Linked DNA regions of Homo sapiens: regions 1 and 3 are each linked to region 2. Evidence: fine-mapped expression QTL. A gene starts in region 2. Each other region holds a variant in brackets. All regions are shown on one strand. Distances are from middle to middle. Region 1 overlaps ERN1 (endoplasmic reticulum to nucleus signaling 1). Region 2 holds the start of ERN1 (endoplasmic reticulum to nucleus signaling 1). Region 3 overlaps ERN1 (endoplasmic reticulum to nucleus signaling 1).

Region 1 (2,844 bases), 73 kb before region 2:
GAACTCTCTTCAGCCCAATGGGCAGCTCACCTCTGGTCAGCCGCGACGCCCAGCCCTTGTGGAGAAAGACAGGAGGATGGCCAGGGTGGTTCCCAGAAGGCCCTCTGAAGGGGAGATGCCAAGGGATGGGGCAGAAGCCTTCCCACAGAGACCCCCAGAGTGGAAGTTAGAGGAGAACACAGTGAACCCCTGAGAATGGTAGTTTACAATCTTATGGAGACTCCTTGGACTTCTCAGGAGGTGCTCGAATAAAACATAAAATAGCACCAAGATGGCAACTGGCTTTACCTCCATCGTCTTGTTCCAGGGAGGGGCTGCTGCCAGCCTTGGAGGCAGAGCTGCCGGAGCAGAGCGAGTGGTTGGAGGCCCTGGGGGACGTGCTGGGGCTGCTGGTGCCCGAGCTCTCTGAGTACGGGCCAGACGTGTCCAGGAGCTCGCCGTCCTGAGCCGTGTCTCCAGGTGGGTGGAAGGGCAGCTGCTGCTGCTGCTGCTGCAGGAGCTGGATCTTCTCCAGTTCCTTCTGGAACTGCTGGTGCTGGAGCTGCTGCTGCTGATGCATGCTCTGGGAAGAGAAACCCACATCCAGACAAGGGCAGCTGTTCCCACAGGGAAACAAGCAGCTGGGAAGGGACAGGTCCCAGTGGCGGAGGGAGCATGTGTACTTTATGTGACCCAACAGGGCACAAAGAGACCAGTGAGAAGGCACCTGGAAGCAGAATTGCTTCGATGACTGGACGTCTTTCCACCGACTAGTTAGATCCTTGCTCATACAGCCCACTCCCCAACCCTAGGAGGGGCTGGATGGCCACCAGGGGAGGGACTGTGCCCTAGGTTGAGGGCTGTGCCAGTTTCATTCAGTTCTAAAATTCTGTGATTTTCATGAAAGTCTGAGAGTTGTTGCAAAGGTGAAACCAAACAGGAAGCACAGGTAGCATGGCTGAGCCAGTGGTGGGTGAGAGCAAGCCCCAGGTTCGCCACCCACCGTGTCTGTGTGTTGGCTAGAGGCTAGCGCACAGACACTCAGTAATCCAGAGGGGCAGGTGAGGAAGCTCTAGTATTCTAGGTATGCAGAGTACATCTGCATACACATAGCCAGGAGGTGGCAGTGGGGCTGACACATGGTGAGCCTG[G/A]CTGAGGTCCTGCTTCCGCCTTTCATCCCACTGCCTTCCCCGAGGCCACATGCCTCTCAAATACTCTGAAGGATTCATTCTGTCATTATCTGAAGTAGCAGCGATCTGTGATCATCCCTACCCATGTGCAGGAGGTGGACTGAAGGGACTTCTGTGAGCCACCAACCCACCAGGGAGTCGTCTCTTCTTCTCTCCACCATGGGGTGGAGTCCTAGAAATGCCGTCTACTAGCTGGGTACCCGTGGGGAAAGTTACTTAGCTTCTCAGGGTCTACTTCCTTCTTTTGTGGACAAGGGATCAATAATAATGACCTCATAGGACTGAGTGAGGTGAAAAGTGAAACTATCAGGTGCAGACGTGCCAGTGGGGAGTGCCATAAAGAGTCTGTCATTCCCATTCCTGGGCGGGTCATTAGCTTCCTGAGCTCTCAGGTAACAGCATCTCGATGCTCTGAGCAACCTGCTGAAGGACCATGCCCCTCACATATTTCATCCCACCCATGGCCTGTTCTGCTACAGAACTTGCTCATTTCCAACTAGGAAGTAAAGGGATGGCCACACTGCCTTTTTCACACAAGCTGATCTCACAGGCAGCTTCTTTTTTCTTTTTTTGGTTCTTCTCCCCAGCAGAAGTTCTAATGGCAGTTTTTAAGGGAGGAAAGGTCTTCATCTATTATCCTTATTCTTTAAAAATACAGATAACTATTCAAAATCATCTTTGAGCAAGGCTTATAAATCAGCTCTTAGCTGAAAAACACTAAGATTTAGGAACAAAATTGTCCTTTTCTGGGAGGCTAGTGTCTCTTTAATTATGTTTTTGAAGATAAACAAACACTGACTTTTTTTTTCTTTTTTTTTGAGATGGAGTCTTGCTCTGTCGCCTTGCTCTGTCGCCCAGGCTGGAGTGCAGTGGTGTGATCTCAGCTCACTATAAGCTCCGCCTCACGGGTTCACGCCATTCTCCTGCCTCAGCCTCCAGAGTGGCTGGGACTACAGGCCCCTGCCACCATGCCCGGCTAATTTTTTGTATTTTTAGTAGAGACAGGGTTTCACTGTGTTAGCCAGGATGGTCTTGATCTCCTGACCTTGTGATCCACCCGCCTCGGCCTCCCAAAGTGCTGGGATTACAGGCGTGAGCCACTGTGCCCGCCCGGCCAACAAACACTGACTTTTAAATGGGGAAAGAAATGTGCTGGTTGTTTTTGTCTGGATCTCACTGACATGAGGCGACAGGCAGAGAAGCCCCAGAAATAGGTGGATGGCAAAGGGGAATTGTTGAGCTTTACCAGGGGATAGGTGATGATGAAGGCCACCCAGCCAATCAGCAGGAAGGTGCTCAGGATGATGGTAGCCATGTCCTTAAGCATGGAGTCCACGGGGGCCTCGGGCCGGGCAGGGGCATGGGCGGGCTTCTCCTCCACATCCCGAGACACGGTGGTAGGTGCGTTTTCTGAAGTCTGGTCAACCAGGTTGATAACCTTGCATGGGAGAGAGTTGCGACATCACTGCAAAATTTCTAGCCAGATACAGATGAGGCCAGCAATCAAGAGAAGCAATCACTGTTTACAAGGATATGACTGTACTGCAGGGGGTTTTATTTGTTTTAAGCTCACCAAAGATCATGTAGCCAGATAACTGTTGCCTCTTTCAAAGCAATTGCTTTGAGAGGCCATGCATCTTTGCAGTGAGGTTATCATTATTCAAAAATAGTTTTT
Region 2 (2,500 bases):
AAACTTAACTTCCACAAGTTCTATTATAAAGAGTCTACAAATTTTCCTTTATTTAAAAAAAAAAACCCTGAATTTGAAAAAGGCAACCTTATTTATTTACTTCTCCTGTTTCCAAATTCTTGTTACTCCAAGAGTACAGACAGTTATTTACCTAAAATGCAAAACCTCCAAAGAGTTCACACGGTGGCTGGCACTCAGGCACACACATGTCAGTGCTCTACTGGGACACCTGGTACATGATATCCCTATTAAAGAGTACACAGTACCTTTAAAGAGGTCATTAAACAGAACACGGACAAATTTGCCACGCTCACATCCTGAACAATACATTTTGTGAAAAACATTCGCTAATTTAGGTTCTTCCAACCAGAAGAAAAAAAAAAGCCAAGTCTCCCACAAAGTGCCCCCAAATCCACAGCTGAGTGAAGGTCATAAAGAGTTAAATGAATGTAAACCAGGCCCTATCATTCGTCTCCTCCAGAAAAAGATGAAAAGACATTTCTGATGGCCCCAGGTGCTCTCCCACGAGGAGACAGTCTTTCATTTGAGGTTCTGAAGCGGCCTCACCTCGAACCCATGCGGGATCTTCCAAGAGTGCAATTCCCACAGCTCCACTTGCTCAAGGAAGTCTCGGTGCACAGAAGGAAGCCTGCAGCCTCCCAGTACCAAGAAACCGGCAGGGCAAGTGGCAGAAGCCAGCTCTCGGGTGAGAGTCCTTACTCCCTGTTGCATTCGTTCCCCAAAGTTTTCGAATTTTTAAAAAGTTCAAACAAGGATTCGAAGCGCAGGACAGACCCTTCCCCTGGATCCCAACGCCCTTTCGGCTCCTCCGCGGCCCCCGCCAGGCAGCGCCGGCGCCCGCCCGCGAGGAGGAGGGTCCCGCAGGTGGGCGGCCTCCTCAGGCCGGGGCCTTCTGGGACCCCCAAGTGCCGTGCAGGACGCCACGAAGTTGCGCCCGAGCCCGCGGGGTCCGGGGAGCCGCTGCCCGTGACAGCCGCGCTGGCTTGGGAGGCTCTTCGGGCGGCCGACGCCTCGGTGGGGCCGCGACTCCCGTCAGGGAAGCTCTCCCGGCCCGGTGCCGCCTCCTACGCCCGGCCCGAGCCTCCCACGGCTGGGCTCACGGGGCATCTGGCCGCCGCCGTCGCGCTCCCAGCTCGGACTCCAGCCCCGGCGCCGCGACGCTGCCCCGGCCCCGACCCGGCCGTCGCGAGCTGTCCTCCACCCCACGCTCCCCGGTCACTCACCCCGAGGCCGGGCAGCAGCAGCGTCAGCAGCAGCAGCAGCCGCCGGGCCGGCATGGCGAGGACTCGGCCCTGGCTCCGGGGGCGGTACGGACAGAGGACGGGGCGGGGGCGCCGCGACGACAGCGAGGCGGTGACCGAGCCTCAGCGGACGCAGAACTGACTAGGCAGCGGCGGCACCCCCATTCCCGGCCCTATAAGCGCTGGGTGCCGCGGCTTCTTCCGGTCGGGGCGGAGTTGCGGGCGGGGACGGGGCGGGGCCAATCTAGGGGCGTGTTCGGGGCGGAGATGGGGGCGGGCCGAGGGCGTGCCCCGGGCGGGGATGTGGGAGGGGCTGGCTCGGGGCGGGGCCGAAGGCGGTGCTGGCATCTGGCTGGCTTCGCTCATGAGGCGTCGGCGGCTGTAAAGGACCAGGCCTCGGCATCCAGCGTCTGGGGGCGCTGGGGGATCGAGGCGCGAAGCTTGTCTGTGGCTGGGAAAGACCGGCAATGCCCCACCAGGCCGTCCCATTAACCCTGCCGAGGGACCTGCCGCGTCAGACTTCATCGGGGAAAAGGGCGGGACACGGGCGGTCCCGGGTGCCTAGAAGCCTCCTTTTCGTCTTTCCGCCGTGGTGGAATCATCCGCAAGGTTTACCGAGGCGACCTCCGGAGCGAAGGTTTCAGCAGCTACCGGAGGCTTCCAGCAAACACGGCGCAGCTGCCCCGCGCGGCAGTCGCAGTGTTCACAGCCCTAGGGTTCTCCAGCTGTGCCTCGTCTTCTCTGGGGCCCCTTTCTTCCTTTTCCTTGCCCTCAGGAATTCCCCTCAAGTCATATCCACCAGCCATCACTTCCGCTTGGAATGAACCACGGCCAAGTCACTCACCAAAAATTATAAGGAGGAAACCATTTCGGCCACTTGTGTCACGTGCGTTGATGTGACACGTGTGGATGTGAAGTTTGAGATGGTCTGCGTCACAACTCGTTGGAGGGAGTGGGTGGGTTGAGGCCTCCTGCAAGGTCTATGTGAGGGTGTGGAGTACTAATTAGAGTTAAAGAGCTCGGCAGCTGTTTGGTCACTGGCACTGGCCTCCACTGAGAGGGACATGGGTAGGGAGGACACGTCTTTTGCAAGGAAAGACAGTAAACTGAGATTTGGAGCCCAGGGAAAGGTATCTAACTTATCCTAGGAGAAAAAGAAAACGGCTATGAAATTCTCTAATTTTTCCTGACTTGCTTATATGAGAGCCTAAGATTTTTCAGGTTTGAAGGAAAAGAAT
Region 3 (2,844 bases), 77 kb before region 2:
AACTTCTGGTTTCCAGGAAATACAAGGAATACAGAGAAATGTTCAACGCTGTCATGAGGAAAAAAGCAAACAAACCAGAATGGGGCATCCTATAACCCACTGCCTGGACTCTTCAAAATGGAACTTCAACATGGAACAAAATATAGGTGGAAAGATTTGTAAATTCCAAGAGACAGAATCAAATGTAACGCAAGACACCTGATTCCATCCTGGTATATAAAACCCAGTAGGTATCAAAACCCAGTAGGTAGCAAAATACCAACTCTATAAAAGACATTTGGGGACTAATTGGGGAAATTTGAATATGGATTGAATATGAGATGATGGATAGAAACAGTATTAACTGTTGAGGTGGGATAATGGTATTGTGGTTGGAAACACAATGTATTCCTTAGGAGACACGTGCTGAGGTCTTCAGGGATGAAGGGCCAGGATGCCTGCTACTTATATTCAAATGGTTCAGTAATAGGTAAAGATAAAGCAAATGTGGCAAAAGTATTAACAAATGTTGAATCTAGGTGGAGATACACAGGTATTCATGTTAACATTCTTTCAGCCAGATGCTGTGGCTCATGTCTGCAATCCCAGCACTTTGGGAGGCTAAGCCTGAGCCCAGGAGTTCAAGACCAGCCTGGGCAAAATAGCGAGATCGCACTTCTAAAAAATTTTTTTCTTTTAATTTTCTCTATGTCTAAAAATTATCAAAATAAGTTGAGAAAACAAAAACAAAATTTTAAAAATAATGAAAACTTGAAGTTTGCTCACGCTAAGCAAGCCCTGACTTCCCAGTTTACCAAAATTAAAAAGGGGTTAAAAAGTGATTGATTTAGCTGGGTGTGGTGGCAGGTACCTGTAATCCTAGCTACTCAGGAGGCTGAAGCAGGAGAATCGCTTGAACCTGGGAGGTGGAGATTGCAGTGAGCTGAGATCATGCCACTACACTCCAGCCTGGGTGACAGTAAGACTCTGTCACACAAAAAAAACAAAAAAACAGCCAACCAACCAAACAAAAAAAAAAAACAAGTGATTGGAAGAATAGGGAAAAAAAATAGATAATTGCCCACATTTGCCCCTTTAATCAGCTGAACATGAGATGACACAGAATGTTCACACAGAAGCTCTTGGTGAAAGGAATGCCATTCTCCAGCTACACGGGCACCAGCCCCCAAACCTGGAATTTAAAGGTTCTACTCCTGAAGATACAATGGGCTGGTTCTGTAGTTTTCAAAGGGCCATAGC[C/T]TATTACTCACAGGGTTCTCCTTACAGTCTTCGCTCAGCATCTCTGGAGCGATCCAGCCTTCTGTGCCAGGCACCCCAGATCGGCGGCTGAAACTGTGTCTGCCCACTGCCAGCTTCTTGCAGAGGCCAAAGTCGGAGATCATGGCCTTGATCTTGCCGTGTGCATTGGGCATGGATATGAGGATGTTGTGTGGCTTTAGGTCTCTGTGAACTAACAGAGAACTCCAGATTAGTCCAATGCTTACCAGGAGCAACCCCAGGCCTCCTCCAATGGGGAATGTGTCCTCGTCAGACTCCCAATATGCCTGCCGCCACCTCCAAATGTTCTGATTTTCAACTATGTCGGATTCCTCCTCAAATTCTTACACCACTCATCTTTGCTACTGGTGATATAGCCAAGAGCTTGAACAGAAGCAAGGCCCACCCGAGCTACTGGTTAGCCCCACCTGGGCCACTGATTCTCCCCACCCGGGCCGCTGGCCTGGTAAAGTGCAGCCTCTCACCGATGTTGAGGGAGTGGAGGTGGGCCAGGCCCGAGGTGGTCTGCTGCAGCAAGGTGATGGGCTCCAGGCCGAGATGCGCAAAGTCCTTCTGCTCCACATACTGCAAAAGACATGACAGCAAGGTCACGGCACACAGTCCTCAGGACTTGGCCCCTCGGCTCACTTTCTTTGATACCATTTTAAGAAAGAAATGGCAAGTTTTACTGACAACATTCTGTCTAAATCCATGTTTTCCAGCAAGGAGCAAACCTCCAAATCTACTAATTTACAATGAGAAAGATAAGAAGGCAAGAAACTCAAGTTCATTGCCTCATATAAGTAAACCTACAAAGGAATCCAAATGATACTGATATGGTTTCAAAGTGAGCCTGGAAAATGAGCAAAAGGAGCTTGCTGGATGATCTTAAAGCCTGGAGTTACCAACTGGCATCCTCCAAGCCCACACCAGCCATGACTGAAGAGGGAAAGAACAACTGTCCAGGTTTCCTGGAGGCAAAGAGGGAGAGACATGCCAACTGCAAGCAGACTGCCCAGGCATGCTGGGGGGACCACCCTGTTACAACCAGAGGGATAAAAATGCTCCACATTTTGACTGTGTATGTGGTTAAATGGGTATAGACATTTGTCAAAATTCATCAAGCTATTACATTTAAAATTAGTACAATTCACTGTAACTTTTTTTTAATTTGACGGGGTCTCACTCTGTTGTCCAGGCTGGAGTGCAGTGGCACAATCACTGCTTACTGCAGCCTTGATCTCCCAGGCTCAAGCAATCTTCCCACCTCAGCCTCCCAAGTAGCTGGGGCTACAGGAACACATCGCTAGGCCTGGCTAATTTTTGGTTTCTTTGTAGAGATGGGGTTTCACCATGTTGTCCAGGCTGGTCTCAAACTCCTGAGCTCACGTGATCTGCTCACTTTGGCCTCCCAAAGTGCTATGACTTTAATAAAGTTAACAAAATAAAAAAAATAAATCCACCTCTTGCAGGGTGGCTGCACACAGCTCGATGGCAATGTACTGGAATTGCCGGTCCTTCTCCGTGCAGAAGTAGCGGATCACGTTCGGGTGCTCATCCGATTCTCGCAACAGCTGGACCTCACGG

The links.
Region 1: its variant is fine-mapped to the expression of ERN1 in whole blood (INTERVAL, PIP 0.96).
Region 3: its variant is fine-mapped to the expression of ERN1 in whole blood (TOPMed, PIP above 0.99).

Annotation. Positions count from the first base shown.
Region 1 is chr17:64,055,387-64,058,230 of GRCh38, forward strand. It overlaps ERN1 (endoplasmic reticulum to nucleus signaling 1), which reads right to left. Exons shown (of 22, transcript NM_001433.5): 12 at 2,416-2,607; 13 at 289-562. Among named protein-coding and RNA genes, the nearest start is that of ICAM2, 36 kb to the left of the region's middle. RefSeq lists enhancers at 1-614, 615-1,358, 1,147-1,266 and a silencer at 1,577-1,626. The variant G/A (reference allele first, on the strand shown) is at 1,131.
Region 2 is chr17:64,128,732-64,131,231 of GRCh38, forward strand. It overlaps ERN1 (endoplasmic reticulum to nucleus signaling 1), which reads right to left and starts at 1,413. Exons shown (of 22, transcript NM_001433.5): 1 at 1,245-1,413. The coding sequence starts at 1,298. RefSeq lists silencers at 924-1,373, 1,464-1,593 and enhancers at 2,014-2,213, 2,264-2,313.
Region 3 is chr17:64,051,530-64,054,373 of GRCh38, forward strand. ERN1 (endoplasmic reticulum to nucleus signaling 1) reads right to left here. Exons shown (of 22, transcript NM_001433.5): 15 at 2,721-2,844; 16 at 1,743-1,842; 17 at 1,251-1,450. Among named protein-coding and RNA genes, the nearest start is that of ICAM2, 32 kb to the left of the region's middle. The variant C/T (reference allele first, on the strand shown) is at 1,240.